Linked DNA regions of Homo sapiens: region 2 is linked to region 1. Evidence: fine-mapped expression QTL. A gene starts in region 1. The other region holds a variant in brackets. All regions are shown on one strand. Distances are between the middles of the regions. Region 1 holds the start of FRAT2 (FRAT regulator of Wnt signaling pathway 2). Region 2 overlaps RRP12 (ribosomal RNA processing 12 homolog).

The links.
Region 2: its variant is fine-mapped to the expression of FRAT2 in whole blood (TOPMed, PIP 0.95).

Annotation. Positions count from the first base shown.
Region 1 is chr10:97,329,981-97,338,300 of GRCh38, reverse strand. It overlaps FRAT2 (FRAT regulator of Wnt signaling pathway 2), which reads left to right and starts at 3,572. Exons shown (of 1, transcript NM_012083.3): 1 at 3,572-5,804. The coding sequence starts at 3,729. The coding sequence ends at 4,430. It overlaps LOC105378448 (a long non-coding RNA gene), which reads right to left and starts at 3,455. Exons shown (of 2, transcript NR_188201.1): 1 at 3,330-3,455. RefSeq lists enhancers at 898-1,416, 3,954-4,861 and silencers at 3,004-3,353, 3,484-3,633, 3,724-3,873, 4,214-4,343, 4,354-4,403.
Region 2 is chr10:97,366,715-97,375,034 of GRCh38, reverse strand. RRP12 (ribosomal RNA processing 12 homolog) reads left to right here. Exons shown (of 34, transcript NM_015179.4): 16 at 1,141-1,205; 17 at 1,298-1,460; 18 at 1,835-1,989; 19 at 2,232-2,299; 20 at 2,869-2,962; 21 at 3,954-4,112; 22 at 4,239-4,319; 23 at 4,475-4,580; 24 at 4,761-4,868; 25 at 5,453-5,610; 26 at 7,903-7,994; 27 at 8,126-8,293. Among named protein-coding and RNA genes, the nearest start is that of RRP12, 30 kb to the left of the region's middle. The variant T/C (reference allele first, on the strand shown) is at 3,905.

The sequences.
Region 1 (8,320 bases):
GGCAGGGAGCCAGTGTGCTGGGCTCACAAGTTCTCATCGCTTCCCTTTTTGATACCGTCTCATTACTTTTAATTGCATCTGAGTCTTTCTAGCATCTTGTATTTTGCTTCCTAATCCAGGGCATTTCTCTGCCTCCCACTGGTCCAGCACAGCACTTCTCTCTCTCAGAGCTCTCCAGAGAGGTGCCCCCAGAAAATGGAGCTGGTCTTCTGTAATGAATTCATCTCTGTAATGAATAGTATAATATCCAAGTCCCAGCATATTTACATAGCAATCTTCACACAAAAGCAACATTACAAAGGGAAGATTTTTTTTTTTTAAAGAATGCCATCTCAAAGCTCCATTTCCTATAGTACGAAGAACACTATTGGAATTACCCTGACAGGAAAACAAAAACAACTTCCAGGGATGCTGGGTGAGAGACAATAGTTAAACCAGACCCATTAATGTTTAAAATCAATGGAGCATAAAACTGCTTTTCTCTACTTACAGCCAGGCATCATCATACAGAAAGGAGGAAAACATTACCATTTTAACTCTACTGAAATCCGTAAGCCCTCCCCTAATTTTCATTCCTCTCGAAATTCTCCAGTAAGTACCATCGGAATGAAAATGAGAATCAGTCTCTCCGGGGGGAATGGCTTCCAGTCCTCATCAGTAAAGTGTGTGAACAGCCCTCGGGAGATGGAGGTGGGAGGCTGCCCACTGGGAAAGTCTCCATCACTCAAACCTGCAGAACTAGTTGCGGAGACTCACTGTGGGGCATGGGAGCCTCCGGGCTGACTTCAGTAAAGCCCTACACAATCCCAGGTCAGGGTAGACCTGAGGCAGAATTTAAGAAACCTGGCAAGTGCACAGAAGTAATACCCTCAGGGTACGTTTCACCTAGTGGGCTGCATGGGGGGGATCTTCAACATTATTATGTTAAATGCTCCCCAGGGGGGACTCGCTGGAATTGAGCCAGACCTCTGTTAGTAAACCGCTGGACCTAATCCTACATTTGTGTAATGCCTGACAACACCCGTTCCCATTATCTTATTTGATCCTGAAAACAATCCTCAGAGGGAGGCCAGGCAGGGATTATTTCTCCTATTTACAAGTGAAAACACTTGTAAACTGATTTGCCTGGAGTCCCACACCCAGGATGTGGCAGGAATGAGACTTGGATCTAGGTCTTTGTACAACCTGTTCTGGGTTCTTTTGACTTCACACAACAGACTGATCAAAACATTCCCAGCCCCACCCACTCCTCACAACCACCAGCTTAACCAGCAACTGGAAACTCACCAGACAGCTTGTGTTTATGCTACCCTCACACCTCTGTCCTAGTGAAGAAACACACCTTTGGCTGGCAAGCTCTCCAGGAAAAAATTAATTTCATGTCATCTCCTTGAAACAAAGACCAACATTAATCCCAGATGGATTTGAAAAAAAAATCAAGGCATTTGAAAAATCTAAAGAAAATAGAATGGAATATTTAATAACTTTCTGGCAGCAAGGAGACTCCAAATTTAGCATCGTGTTAGAAATTTCAAAGAGATTTTAAAATTTGCCTACATGAAAATTTGGTTTTAGTGGGGGAAAAAATGACTGTACAGAGCCAACAAAAGCCTGGAGACGTATTTGCGGCAAAATATGAAAAGGGTTAACATTTGGTATGTAAAGGAGTCATGCAAATACGTAAGAAACACTCCCTAGGAAAATCTTATTAGGAAATAGACAATTCATAAGAAAGGAAGTACAGTTTGTTAACAAACATTTAGAAAACTGCTCTACCTAACTGAAATCAAAGATATGCAAACTGAAGGGAGAAAATTTCCCTATATAATCCGCAAAAAAAAAAAAATTCAATAATACTCAAATACTAGTGAAGGTGTAATGATGTATGCTCAAGCATTAATGATGGTAGAGTACATTTACCTAACTCTTGGAAAGACACTTCCTGAACATTTATCAGTAAACCTTAAAATACCCAACTACTGTGACTTAAAATTCCACTCCTGGGAATATGCCCTAAGGAAAGAATCATCAATATCTTAAAGTGTCGCGCACAAAAATGTTAGTTACACACTTAACGATGGTGAAATTAGGCAAATGTTAAAAACATAGGCACTTGATGGAAACTTATGTAATCATTAAAATGTTTTCAAAGTGCATGCAATAACACGAAAAACGTTTATGATGTAAGGCAAAGTGGAAAAGTGTGTAACACTGTATGCATGTGTTTGTATACTACACTTTCATAGAACAAAGGCTAAAAAGGAAAAAAATTTAAATGTGAACCATGAGAGATTTTTTCCATCCCTTATATTTTTCTTTTTTTTTTTGAGACGGAGTCTCGCTTTGTTGCCCAGGCTGGAGTGCAGTGGCGTGATCTCGGCTCACTGCAACCTCCGCCTCCAGGGTTCAAACCATTCTCCTGCCTCAGTCTCCCGAGTAGCTGGGATTACAGGCGCCCGCCACCACGCCCGGCTAATTTTTGTATTTTTAGCAGAGATGGGGTTTCACCATGTTGGCCAGACTGGTCTGGAACTCCTGACCTCAGGTGATCCGCCCGCCTCGGCCTCCCAAAGTGTTGGGATCACAGGCATGAGCCACCCACCGCTCCTGGCCAATCCCCTATATTTCTATTTGAACCTTAAAAAAAAAAAAAGACCCTTCTTTAGCCGAGCGGCGGTGAGTCCTATTCTCATGATATGTCCGGGGGCTTGAAGACTGCGGGAGGGAAAGCCTCTGGGACCTCACCTCAGAGCGATTCTGCTCTGCTTCAAAGCGTCCCCTCTTAGGCCGGGCGCGGCGGCTGACGCCAGTAACCCCAACACTTTCGGAGGCCGAGGAGCGAGGACTCCTTGAGCCCAAGAGTTCGAGACCAGCCTGGGCAATATAGTGAGACCCCCCCCCCCCACCACCGTCTCTACAAAAAAAATTTTTTTAATTAGCCAGGCGTGGTGGCCGCGCCTGTGGTCCCAGCTGCTCCGGAGGCTTAAAGTGGGATGATTACTTAAGCCAGAGTTCGAGGCTGCAGTCAGCCGTGTTCGCGCCACTATACTTCAGCCTGGGCGACAGAGACCTTTTCTAAATAATAAATAAGTAAATAAGTAACGTGCCGCCTCTTCACTCCCAATTCCCTCCGCCTTTCCCCGCCCCGCCTCGTCGAAGCCGGACCCGCGGCGGCCCGCCCCTCCCCCACGACCAGGGCCGGGAACTGCGGGTGCGCGGGGCGGGAGTCGGGCGGGCTTAGGCGCGGCCGACACGTGGGGAGGGAGGCCGCGGCCCAGGAGGCGGGCCCGGAGTGGGTGTGGGTGTGTCCGTGCGTGGGAGAAACCAACCTCAGCCTCCTCCGAGGCGCCACGTTTCAGCACGGCTCGTTGGGCCCGGGAGGTCGGAAATCAGTCCCCACGCCCCGGACCCCCTCCTGGAGGGACAACGAACACAGGCGCGGGACGGCTTCGGTCACCGCCCGCGCCGCCCTTTGCCCCCGTGCCTGCTCGCGCGTCACCCCCGCCCCGGTGCGGTGGTAGGGCCCGGCGCGACGTCACCCATTGTTTACAAATCAACCCGAGCCGGCAGGATTCCGGCTCCAGCGGCTGCAGGCGCGTGGCTCGAGTGCCTGGCGGGCTCCGGCTTCCGCGTCCGCCCCTGCTCCGGCTTCGCCCGCAGCTCCGCGCCCGCGGGCAACCAAGCCCCCAGCGAAGCCCGCACAGCTCCGGGTGCCAGGACGGGGGGCCATGCCGTGCCGGAGGGAGGAGGAAGAGGAAGCCGGCGAGGAGGCGGAGGGGGAGGAAGAGGAGGACGACAGCTTCCTCCTGCTGCAGCAGTCGGTGACGCTGGGCAGCTCGGGCGAGGTGGACCGGCTGGTGGCCCAGATCGGCGAGACGCTGCAGCTGGACGCGGCGCAGGACAGCCCGGCCTCGCCGTGCGCGCCCCCGGGGGTGCCGCTGCGGGCCCCGGGGCCCCTGGCTGCGGCGGTGCCGGCGGACAAGGCCCGGCCCCCGGCGGTGCCGCTGCTGCTGCCGCCCGCTTCGGCTGAGACGGTGGGCCCGGCGCCCTCTGGGGCCCTGCGCTGCGCCCTAGGGGACCGCGGCCGCGTGCGCGGACGCGCTGCGCCCTACTGCGTGGCGGAGGTCGCCGCAGGCCCCAGCGCGCTGCCGGGGCCGTGCCGGCGAGGATGGCTCAGGGACGCGGTCACCTCCCGCCGCTTGCAGCAGCGCCGATGGACCCAAGCCGGGGCACGCGCCGGCGACGACGACCCGCATCGGCTCCTCCAGCAGCTCGTGCTCTCGGGAAACCTCATCAAGGAAGCCGTGCGGAGACTCCAACGAGCCGTCGCCGCGGTTGCAGCCACGGGCCCCGCAAGCGCCCCTGGGCCCGGGGGAGGCCGCAGCGGACCTGACCGCATTGCCCTGCAGCCCTCAGGCTCCTTGCTCTGACGCAGGCCTCCTGGAGGAGGAAGTGGAGGCCGCTGCGTAGACCCAACAGCGTCCAGTTCCTACTAACTCTGAGCTGAAGCCGACGTCGCCAGCCTGGGAGCGACCACTTTGGCTGCGGGGAGGCGCGTGGGGAGAGATCTCAACCAGAGAAGTTACCAGCCGCGGCGAGGCCGTCGGAGAAAACTTAAGCGTGGAGAAATGTATGCGCCAGGGTGCTTCCGTGGGGCATGAGAATTTCCCGGGCCATCCAAGCCCAAGGACCTGGGATAAACTGGGAGAACTATGGCAGCTACTTGCATCGACTTGTACCTCACTTAGCCCTTGGGGGCGTCGTGAGCTTGGATTGTTTAAGGAGGGCTCAGGGGTAGGAATCGCGATGGCTTTATAACAATACTTGAAAACTAACGACACGCATACATTTTCTTATTTTCTGGTGGAGGAGCTTAGTAAGTGGTGCTACAATTGCTGTGCAAAGAAATTCCAGAGGGGAGAAGAATGTAAAAGTTTGGTGGTGGGTGGCTTGGCATTGCCCCTTTTTCCCACCGATTCGGTGGCTGGTGAAGGTGGGAGATGTGAACTCCAATTAAGGGACTGGAGAGAGGTGAAGAATTTTGCAGGTGGGAGATTTGGATTTGAATGTGGACTTGTAAATGACTTGACCTTGCCATCTGTGTTCAAGGTCACGGTTTGCTGTGGGGTTCCTGGGAGAGCTTACTCACCCCGGAGTCTTTTCTTTCTCTTGCTCCAAGAAGAGCCCTGTTGGTGCTTTACCACCGCTTGGAGTCTCCCGAGGACACAAACAGGCAGAGAGGGACGTGTAGGGAGAGTTCTTTCCTGTTTTCTGTGCTTTCCTTTTTACAGGACTCCCGGAAGGCCACTCATGGCCATGCCAGGAGCTTTCTCAGAAACAGTCATAAACGATCTCTTGAGTCTCTTTCTTGTCCTCCCAGCTGAGCTTTCTTATTCCACCCTTTCTGGTGTCTATAGGAATGCATGAGAGACCCTGGACGTTTTTCTGCTCTCTTCTGGCCCTCCATGGAGTCATGGGCCTCGGCCTCGGCGGCTCCTCACCCTCACAATTTATTTCCTCCTCCCGTGCCAGCCCTTCTTTTGTGTCTGAAACCGGTTTTAAAATGTGACTCTCCCAGAGAAGAAGCCGCTGGCTGTATGAAACTTGACGGCGCTTTTGTAAGGTGCCACCCCCAAACTTTAAGGTAGCTAAACCAATTTTTAAAAGATTCAATGGCTTGTTCATCCTCCAGATGTAGCTATTGATGTACACTTCGCAACGGAGTGTCTGAAATTGTGGTGGTCCTGATTTATAGGATTTCATAATTAAAATGTCTGCTGAATAAATTTGGCTTTTGTTTTGGAGCACGGTTTGGCATTTTGGTGGAAGGTGGGAGAGGGGCAGAAAAGCATATGGGGATGTCCTTAATAAAGAGGGCACTTGGGCTAAACCGGGGGGGGGGGACCTGGACAAATGGTTTGGGCCAATGCTGATGGGCACAGAATCCTAGTAGAGCCACAGGACTTGAGTGCTTCTAAGTTTTTATTCCACAAGATCAGAAAATTGAGTCCAGGTTTTTAGAAGCTGCAAGATGGGCTTCCACTCCCTTTGTGGAAAGACAATGTATTCTAGAAATGCTTTCTGGGCTGGAGAGCAAAGAGGTGCTGTGGTGGAGGGAGGTGGGTTTTCATCTGGACGTTTTTGTGCAAAATGGGGAGGGCACAGGCGAAGCCAGCCTGCTTTCCCCTTTGAGACTGACCTAGTCTTGAGCTATGGCCTTGGGAGAGAAAAACAGGGTTTTACAGCAGTGTATTTGGTAGTTGTAAAATGGCTTGGTTTGAGCACTCAGGGGTTAGATTTGACCGAAGTAGCCCTCCTCCTCTCCTCATTCTCTCTCTGCCCTGTCTTCCCAGGCATAGAGCCCTTGCTGAATCCCTTCCTAGTTCCTGCCTTGCCCTTTTCTCTTTTTAATTTAATTTTATTATTTTGAGATGGTGTCTTACTCTGTAACCCAGGTTGGAGTGCAGTGGCACGATCTTGGCTCACTGCAGCCTCAACCTCCTGGGCTCAAACAGTCCTCTCACCTCAACCTCCTGAGTAGCTGGGACTACAGGCTCATACCACCATGCCAGGCTAATTTTTTATATTTTTAGTAGAGATGGGTTCTCACTGTGTTGCCCAGGCTGGTCTTGAACTCGAGCTCAAGTGATCTGCCCTCCTCGGCCTCCCAAGGTGCTGGGATTAAAGGCGTGAGCCACCACACCTGGCCCCTGCCTTGCCCCTTCCTTGCCCAGCTCTACTAACCCAGCCCCCGGGGAACCTCTCCTGCTCAGCACACTCCCGAGGCTGGGGCTGCAGAGGAAGGCTGATGCTCAGTTGCCTCAGCCCTTTCTGCTCACCAGCTGTGTCATGGTGGGCAAGTCAAGACTCTGAGTTTTTCCCTTGTGATTTGTAAAACAATAGTACTTAATAGGGGAGTTGGAAGGGTTAAATGAGGACTTGAAGGGGAGACTTCATTGCTCAAAAAGTGATAGCTGCTCATTCTTGGTACTACCACATGGCTTTATGTGCCACGAGGTAGGCACTATTTTTCCATCTTATAGATAAGGACTACAGACAATGGGAAAAGACCTACAAGATCTGAGTGTTTCTCTACTTCCTAGGTAGAGATGGAGCTGATCCCTGTTAGGGCAGGCACCCTGGTTGGCACCTTTTACAAGATTTTTTTTTTTTTGAGATGGAATCTCGCTCTGTCGCCTGGCTAGAGTGCAGTGGTGTGATCTCAGCTCACTGCAGCCTCCCTCTCCTGGGTTCAAGTGATTCTCCTGCCTCAGCCTCCCGAGTAACTGGGACTACAGGAGCATGCCACCACACCCAGCTAATTTTTGTATATTTAGTAGAGACGGGGTTTTACCATGTTGGCCAGGATGGTCTCGATCTGACCTTGTGATCCGCCTACCTTGACCTCCCAAAGTGCTGGAATTACAGGCATGAGCCACGGCACCTGGCATTTTTTTTTTTTTAAGACGTGGTCTTGCTCTGTCCCCAGGCTGGAGTGCAGTGGCATGATCTTGGCTCACTGCAGCCTCCACCTCCTGGGTTCAAGCAATTCTCCTGCCTCAGCCTCCCAAGTAGCTGGGATTACAGGTGCCCGCCACCACTCCCAGCTAACTTTTGTATTTTTAGCAGAGATGAGGTTTCACCGTGTTGCCCTGGCTGGTCTCAAATTGCTAACCTCAAGTGATCCACCTGTCTTGGCCTCCCAAAGTGCTGGGATTACAGGTGTGAGCCACCGTGCCTGGCCCTACTTTGCTTTTTACAATGGTGAAAGGAATTATTGGTGGTAGAGCAGAATCAGAACTCAGGGCACTTAAGTTGGTCCTCTTGCCCCCTGTCTGAGCCTACACACAATGCTCTTCTCACACACCCTTGTCACCTGTCTGAGCCTACACACAGTACGCTCTTCTCACCCCAACTCTTGCTACTGATCCAGCCATTTGCAAAGCCTGTGGAGGGCCTGGGCCTGGGGAAGTGTCTCTGTCTACGAGGCAATGGGCATTTCCAAGGTGTTGCAGCTTGGGATAGCCCATTCCTAGTACTCTTAGCTCAGGAATGATTTTGGCTAGGATATCCCTAGCCCCTTGTAGTGGATGGTCACAGAGTTGAGACAGCTTCGTCTTCTGAAGGGGCCATTGCCCATGTTTCCCTGATAACATTCTGCAAGTCTCTAGCCTAGAAGGACCAGAGCAATAGGGAAATAATGAGAAATGGTATGTGTGTGTGTGTGGTGTTTGGAGAATTAGGAGTTTCACATGGGAAGTTACGAGGACAGAAGCCTGGTGCCTTGTAAATGACTAGGAGTTGGAGAGGGTTCAGGGCT
Region 2 (8,320 bases), 37 kb before region 1:
CAGACACGGTTTATATCCCAACTCCGCCGCTCCACAGTTCGTGGCTTGGGGCAGGTTTTGTTTAATTTCCCAGGGTCTGCTCCTCATCTTAAAATGGGCAAGTTTTGTGAGGATTAAATGAAAAAGTCATGTGAAGTGCTCATTACAGACTACCACATAGTACTTGCTCAGTAAATGTTACCAGCTTTATTGTCAAGTAAACAAGGTTACAGAATGCTATATATATAGTATATTCCTCCCTATGGTTTTTTTTTTTTTTTTTTGAGACAGAGTCTCGCTCCGTCACCCAGGCTGTTGTGCAATAGCACGATCTCGGCTCACTGCAAGCTCCACCTCCCGGGTTCACTCCATTCTCCTGCCTCAGCCTCCCGAGTAGCTGGGACTACAGGTGCCTGCCACCACTCCCGGCTAATTTTTTGTATTTTTAGTAGAGACGGGGTTTCACCATGTTAGCCAGGATGGTCTCAATCTCCTGACCTCATGATCTGCCCGCCTCAGCCTCCCAAAGTGCTGGGATTACAGGTGTGAGCCACTGCACCCAGCCCCTGTTTATGTTTTACAAAGTGGGCATGTGGCTGGGTGCAGTGTTGCACACCTGTAATCCCAGCACTTTGGGAGGCCGAGGCACATGGATCGCTCAAACTTAGGAATTCGAGACCAGTCTGGGCAACATGGTGAAACCCTACGTCTACAAAAAGTTAGGTGGGTGTGGTGGCATGCACGCCTGTAGTCTGCTTCTTGGGAGGCTGAGGTAGGAGGATCGCGTGAGCCTGGGAGGTCAAGGCTGCAGTGAGCCCAGATTGCGCCACTGTATTCCAGCCTAGGCCACAAAGTGAGACCCTGTCTCAAACAAAACAAACAAACAAAAAAAATTGGGCATGTGTTTAAAGAAGTATAAAAAAGTAACAAGAAACAGAGGCTATCTCTGGGGGAGTAAGAGTATGGAGAGACGTTTGCTTTCTGTTTATTATAGGTTCATTTGAGTATTTTAGAATGAACAAGTATGATTTAATTCATGGAGATGGGGGGAAGTCACCCATATTCCTGTCCTCATCATTGGGCTTTTGGTTTGGTTTGGTAAATAAGGCTGTTGGCCAGGAGGGTGCTGGGCTCACACTCTGTCCCTCTGTCACACTGCAGCCATGGACCTGGCTCAGGCAGGCAGCACAGTGGAATCTAAGATCTACGACACACTCCAGTGGCAGGTAAGGGTCAGCTGGGGGAGGGCGTGGGGAGAAGCACACAGGGGCACAGGTGGCTGCGTGTCACCTTCCTTTATTGTCCCCTCCTTCTCCAGATGTGGACACTCCTGCCTGGGTTCTGCACAAGGCCTACAGATGTGGCCATCTCCTTCAAAGGGCTGGCACGGACGCTGGGCATGGCCATCAGCGAGCGTCCAGACCTGAGGGTCACCGTGTGCCAGGCCCTGCGCACCCTCATCACCAAGGGCTGCCAGGCAGGTACGTGTGGGCTGTGGGAGTGGGGGCTGGGGAGGATGACACAGGTCCCTGGCCCCATCCCCTGGCTTGCTACACTCCTTGCCAGGCAGAGCCACAGAAACTCACCTCTGGAGCTCATCCTTTGCTGCTTCTGCTGCAGACCCCAGGGGATAACTTTGCTGGCTCCCTGGGGTTGGAGCCATCGAGGACCATGGGCCACTGGGGCACCAGGCTCTCCATGCCCTGGCTCAGCTTCTGCCACAGAGAGCCCCAAACCCATGGATTCCAAGTCCTGCCAGCTCCCCCAAGAGAGGGCCTCTGGGCCACAGCCCCAGCAGCCACTGAGGCACAGTCAGCTCCTGTGCCTTTAGTGCAAACTTTGATCCTTTTACCAGAGGCTGACCGTGCTGAAGTGAGTCGCTTTGCCAAGAACTTTCTGCCGATCCTCTTCAACCTGTATGGGCAGCCCGTGGCAGCCGGGGACACTCCAGCCCCTCGCCGGGCTGTGCTGGAAACCATCAGAACTTACCTCACCATCACTGACACTCAGGTGAGCCACGGAAGGGAGGGAAGGAGGGAGGAGGGGAGCTCTCAGGTGGGCAGGGTCAGAGAGGCCGAGACCCTACCCACCAGGGCTCACGTGGGTCTCTGTGTTTTGGAGCACATACCAGCAGTCATGGCTTGGGCAGGGCTGGGGGCTGATGGGGAGGCCGCTCTGGGACTGCTGCCATTGCTGCTTTCTTTCGCTCCTCCCCAATGACTCTCTTCTCCTCATTCCCTCGGGGCCACAAGTTGGTGAACAGTCTCCTGGAAAAAGCCAGTGAGAAGGTGCTCGACCCTGCCAGCTCTGACTTTACCAGGTAACATGCTCAGGGCCTCCCACTTGAGCTGGAGCAGCCCAGGGAGCTGGAGGGTGCATCTGGCAGAAGCACTGTGGGTTCCCTCTTGCATTATTTAAGGAAGCCTTGAAGTATTAACTCTCCAGGCTGTGCTGAGAGGCTGTGCTGACTAGTTCCTTCTTCCTGGAGAGGCCATTTAGTCTGGTAGGGAGGAACAAGGACCCAGGAGATACACTGCCCAGGTTCTGATCCCAGCCCCGTCACTCATGGGCTGTGTGACCTTGGACAAATTACTTATCCATTCTGCCTCTAAGGCCTCATCTGTAAAATGGGCACGATAATAGTTCTTGCAACAAGGTTGCTATGAGGATTGAAGGAGTTAGCAGGTGTAAAACACCAGGAACGGTGACTGGTACATCATGAATGCTCAGTTAGGTACTAGCTATTATTATTGTTCATGAGCTCCTTCAAGCCCCTTGTCCTCACCCTGACTTCTCCCACCTCCCCATACCCAGTAGACGTAAGAACACTGGTAGTCTGCGCCCTTCTCCAGCTCCCCATCCCTCTCCTTGTCCTCCTGCCCCGAGCAGATTGTCTGTCCTGGACCTGGTCGTGGCCTTGGCTCCGTGTGCTGACGAAGCTGCCATCAGTAAGCTATACTCCACCATCCGGCCCTACCTAGAGGTGAGCCTCGGGGGCCAGGAGCGCCACACAGCCACGCTTGGGGGCAGATGGGCTGTGGGAAGGTGGGGCCTGTCTTCATGTCTTTGTCCCTTGCTGCTTCCCGAGATCAGGTCCCTGTCTGCTTTCTCCTGCAGTGGCTTCTCTTTGTGTCCTGTGTAGCCCATCTGTCTTGCAGGTCCCAAAGGGACTGAAATGCACAGCTGTGCTTAGGCCTTGCGTGCTGAGTGACTCTTGTAGAACCAAGGCCATGCTCCTTTGCCTGGCTCACTCCCCAGGCCCATCCCAGACCGGCCTGAGCTTTATCCCACCCAGTCCACTCTCTACTTCTGCTGCAGCCTCCTTCAGCTGCCTTAAGCCTCCCTGATATAACAGGCCCTGTCTGTGCCTTTGCAGGGTTTGGGTCCTCAGCTTGAAATGCCCTCTGCTGTGGCCAGCAACCCTGCAGATCTCAGCCCAGCAGTGACCCCCTGAAAGCTGCCCCCATTGCCACAGTTTAGTAGCAGTTACCTAACAGTGTGAGAAGTGCTCTGGGGCAGCACTGCAGGTGGACATGGAAATCCAGGGCCAGGCCACGTCACCTCAGGAAAGGTGTCCGGCGTTGGGGGTTGGGGGAGTGTGACAGAGAGCTGGTTTGGAGGAGCAAGGAGTTGTCAGTCTTGGAAGGAGAGAGAAGAGTGCTCCGGCTAGAAAGAGCAGCAGATGTGCAGGCCTTGGCGCGTGCCAGGCACCATGAGCTCAGGCCACTGGAGTGAGCACTGTCCAGAGCTGGGTGAGTGGAGTGGATTGGTGGGCCCCACGGCACACACCCCCAACCCCTGTGCCTCGCCCAGGAGTTAGCCACTCGCTGTCCACATTCCACTGGTCCTCTGTCAAGCCACATGAGCCCCCACGGACCCCTGCTCAGAATCCCTCCAGTGCTGGGGGATGCTCCGTGGATAGCAT[T/C]GGACAGGGAGTGAGCCCCAGGCCTCCCTCACCGGTTCCTGTCTGCCAGAGCAAGGCCCACGGGGTGCAGAAGAAGGCCTACCGAGTGCTGGAGGAGGTGTGTGCCAGTCCTCAGGGCCCCGGGGCCCTCTTCGTGCAGAGCCACCTGGAGGACCTGAAGAAGACACTGCTGGACTCGCTGCGGAGCACCTCCTCACCCGCCAAGAGGGTGAGGGCTCTAGGGCCACCCGCTCTGCCGAGGGAGCCTGGGCAACACCAGGAAAGGAGCCACTGTTGAGGCTTGTTGGGTGGAGGTAGCATTGAGGGGTCCTGACTGGTAGCCCTTTGCCCACAGCCCCGTTTGAAGTGCCTCCTACACATCGTGAGGAAGCTCTCAGCTGAACACAAGGAGTTCATCACTGCCCTCATCCCAGAGGTGAGTGTGCGGGTGTGTTTTAGAGGGGGGTCCCTGGAATGTGGCTCTTAAGGGCCTCAGGATCCAGGGAGGGCAGTGATGGGAGTGGGAGGACTCGATTCGCTTCCCGGGCAGATGGCTCAGGGAGCAGATGCTGATGGAGTTGTCTTGGCCAGGTGATCCTGTGCACCAAGGAGGTGTCGGTGGGCGCACGGAAGAACGCTTTTGCACTGCTCGTGGAGATGGGCCATGCTTTCCTAAGGTTTGGCTCGAACCAGGAAGGTGAGGCCCAGGGGGCTGGGGGTGGACACTCTGCTCATAGACTGGGTGGGGGGAAGCACCCCTCAAAAAAGGTGGGGAGAGCTCTGTGCCCTGGCCCTGGGCAGGCTGCTCCTCTCTGGCCCTCAGCCCCCCTACCTGGTGGGTCCTTCCTGCTTGACCCACGTTGGTCTCTGTCCCCAGAGGCCCTGCAGTGCTACCTCGTCCTGATCTACCCTGGCCTGGTGGGCGCGGTGACCATGGTCAGCTGCAGCATCCTGGCCCTGACCCACCTCCTTTTCGAGTTTAAAGGTAAATGCTTATTTCCTAGAAGGCCTGAGAAGCCCTCAGATTAGGAAGATGCCCAAAAGGTCAGGATAAAGTGGCTCCTGGAACTGGGAAAAGGTGCCTGGAGGAAGTAAGAAAAGCCACACCCAGCCCAGTTTGCCTCCCTGTCTCCCTTCCTGCGGGTCGCTGCCTCCCGCCCTTGCGGCTATGCCAAGGCACCTTCCTCAGGTCTGTCCCCACGTGTGACTGTGCAGTCCAGTGGCCCTGCATCCCATTGTCAGAGTGGTTAGGAGGTGGTTAGGGCTGATGCCTGGATTTTAGTCCTAGTCCTGCCTCTTGGCAACCACATGAGACCTAGAACAGCTTGATTAGCCTCTTAGCACCTCAGTTTCTTATCTCTAAAATGGAAGCAAGAAATAGCACCCACCTCAGGGTGACGAAAGGACCCAAGACCACTCCATGGAGCGTGATTGGAACCATCCCGGGCATACGGAAAGGCTCTCAATGTCAGCTTTTACTGACACTTGAGTGGCTGTTTTCCAGTGGGGAAGGTTTGGGTCTGAGTGGGGTCCTGGGTGTCTTAGACAGTGACCCCCTCACTGCCACAGGTCTGATGGGGACCAGTACAGTGGAGCAGCTGCTGGAGAATGTGTGCCTGCTTCTGGCCTCCCGCACCCGTGACGTGGTCAAGTCTGCACTGGGCTTCATCAAGGTGGCAGTGACTGTCATGGACGTGGCGCACCTGGCCAAACATGTGCAGCTGGTGGTGAGTGTCCCCGTTCCCCTTAGCAGGTAGCAGGGTGGCCTCTGAGCTGTTGGCATGGACCTGGCAAGCTTCGAGGCCAGCAAGTTTCAAACTATTTTTTTTGTAGCCAGAGGTCATTAAGGAGCCCTAAAAGGGACCATAGGGGAATGCCTGTCAGGTGGAGGCGAGGAGGGGGCACACTGCCCAGGTGGCTTTCTTCACCCCAGAGCCCTACATGGAAAGCAACAGGGGCTCTTCAGGGCAAAGGCCCATGGGCAGGGCCACTCCTCATTTTACAGATGGAGAAACTGGGCCAGAGATTTTCCAGATCATGGGACTCAGACGCTGGGCTCTCCCTCCACAGGACCCCCTCATCTTGCCTTTTTTTTTTTCCCATCTTGCATTTTGACCTTGCTGGTTAGAGGCCATTCCTTTGGGTCCCCTGCTGGGCTGCAGAAGGATCTGAAGAGCCCCTTGGTATAGGGTCCCTGGCCCTCTCCTGCCCAAGAGAAGCCTTGCCCAGGCTGGCGTAGGCTTCCAGCCAAGCTGTGCACTGTACCTACTGCCTCAGTTTCCCATGTGTGACTGGCTTGAGTCACATCAGACCTCTGGGTCCCTCTTGCATATTTTCTTTGGGTCTGGCCTTGGGTTCAAGATAGGAAGGGACAGATGAGAATCAGCATGCCCTCCCGCTGCCCTCGGAGCCTGCAGCCTACTAGGGACCAAAGGTGGGGAGAACAGCTAGAGCAGTGATCCATCATGGAGTTATTCGAATTTATACAAGCCCTGGCCGGCTGCAGTGGCTCACACCTGTAACCCCACCACTTTGGGAGGCCAAGGCAGGCAGATCACTTGAGTTCAGGAGTTTGAGACCAGCCTGGCCAACATGGTGAAACCCCATCTCTACTAAAAATACAAAAATTAGCTGGGCGAGGTGGCAGGTGCCTGCAATCCCAGCTACTCGGGAGGCTGAGGCAGGAGAATCACTTGAACCTGGGAGGCGGATGTTGCAGTGAGCCAAGATTGCACCACTACACTCCAGCCTGGGTAACAGAGCAAGACTCTGTCTCAAAAAAAAGGGATTTATAGAAGCCCTTCCAAGAGTGGTTGGGGAGGCCAGGAGCGGTGGCTCACACCTATATTCCTAGCACTTTGGGATGCCAAGGTGGGTGGATCACTTGAGGTCAGGAATTCGAGACCAGCCTGGCCAACATGGTGAAGCCCCATCTCTACTAAAAAATACAAAAATTAGCCAGGCATGGTGGTGCGCGCCTGTAGTCCCAGCTGTTCATGTGGCTGAGGTGTGAGAATTGCTTGAACCTGGGAGGCGGAGGTTGCAGTGATCCGAGACCATGCCATTGCACTCCAGCCAGGGTGACAGAGCAAGACTCTGTCTCAAAAAAAAAAAAAAAAAAGCCAGGCACAGTGGCTCACACCTGTAATCCCAGTACTTTGGGAGGCCAAGGTGGGCGGATCGCCTGAGGTTGGGAGTTCAAGACCAGCCTGGCCAGTATGGTAAAACCCTGTCTGTACTAAAAATACAAAAATTAGCCAGGCGTGATAGCAGGCACCTGTAATCCCAGCTATTCAGGAAGCTGAGGCAGGAGAATTGCTTGAACCCAGGAGGTGGAGGTTGCAGTGAGCTGAGATCGTGCCATTGCACTCCAGCCTGGGCAACAGAGCGAGACTCCATCTCAAAAAAAAGGAGTAGACGTGGACCCTATCCCCTAGCCGGTTTGGGAGTCACTGGAGATAAGAAGATCTGCCACCTGCACATGTAACCCAAACTGGGCCAGATGAAGGCTTAAGAGGAATCCAGCCAGAGCAGAATGCAGTGAGATGGAAGGGACATAGGGGACCAAGAGAAATCTTGGGGTGCTAGGGGCAAAGCGGGAGCCGCAGCATTAGATGAGTCTGGGCTGAACTCCCACCTCTATGGCCATTTAGCAAACACTTTATCCTCTGTGCCGCCGTGTCCTCTTCTATAAATAGGGGGTGATAGCATGTATCTCAGGGGTAGTCCAAGGATTCAAGGAGAGGATATATGTCAAGTACCAAGTGCTGTTGAGAAGACTAAAGCTCTCATCCTGCGAGGGTGCTCAGGCCTGTGTCCTGAAGGAGGGTGCAGGGGAAAGATGGGGCCTGCCCACCCGAGGGAAGCATGACTGGGCCAGGGTGTGGGCCAGGAGCAGGGCCGCGCTAACCCTCCCCTCAGCTGGGCTTGATCATGCTGCGTCCCTGGGCTGGACAGCAGTAAAGGGGGCGCAGCATGGAAGGCTCGCCTCCCTGAAAGCCTGGTGCTCTGTCCGGCAGATGGAAGCCATTGGGAAGCTTTCAGATGACATGCGGCGGCACTTCCGCATGAAGCTTCGGAACCTGTTCACCAAGTTCATCCGCAAGTTTGGGTCTGTGCACTGAGCAGGGGCGGGGGTAGGGCAAGCGAGGGGCCGAGGATTTCCAGTCCTACCAGGGACACTACATCTGGGTCGTGCTGTCTGGCCAGTGCCTCTCACCAGCCCTTCCTTGCCACCTCCAGATTTGAGCTGGTGAAAAGGCTGTTGCCCGAGGAGTACCACAGAGTCCTGGTCAACATCCGGAAAGCTGAGGCCCGGGCCAAGAGGCACCGAGCCCTGAGCCAGGCTGCCGTGGAGGAGGAAGAAGAGGAGGAGGAGGAGGAGGAGCCCGCCCAGGGCAAAGGTGACAGGTGAGACCATGTTAGGGCCATGGGACC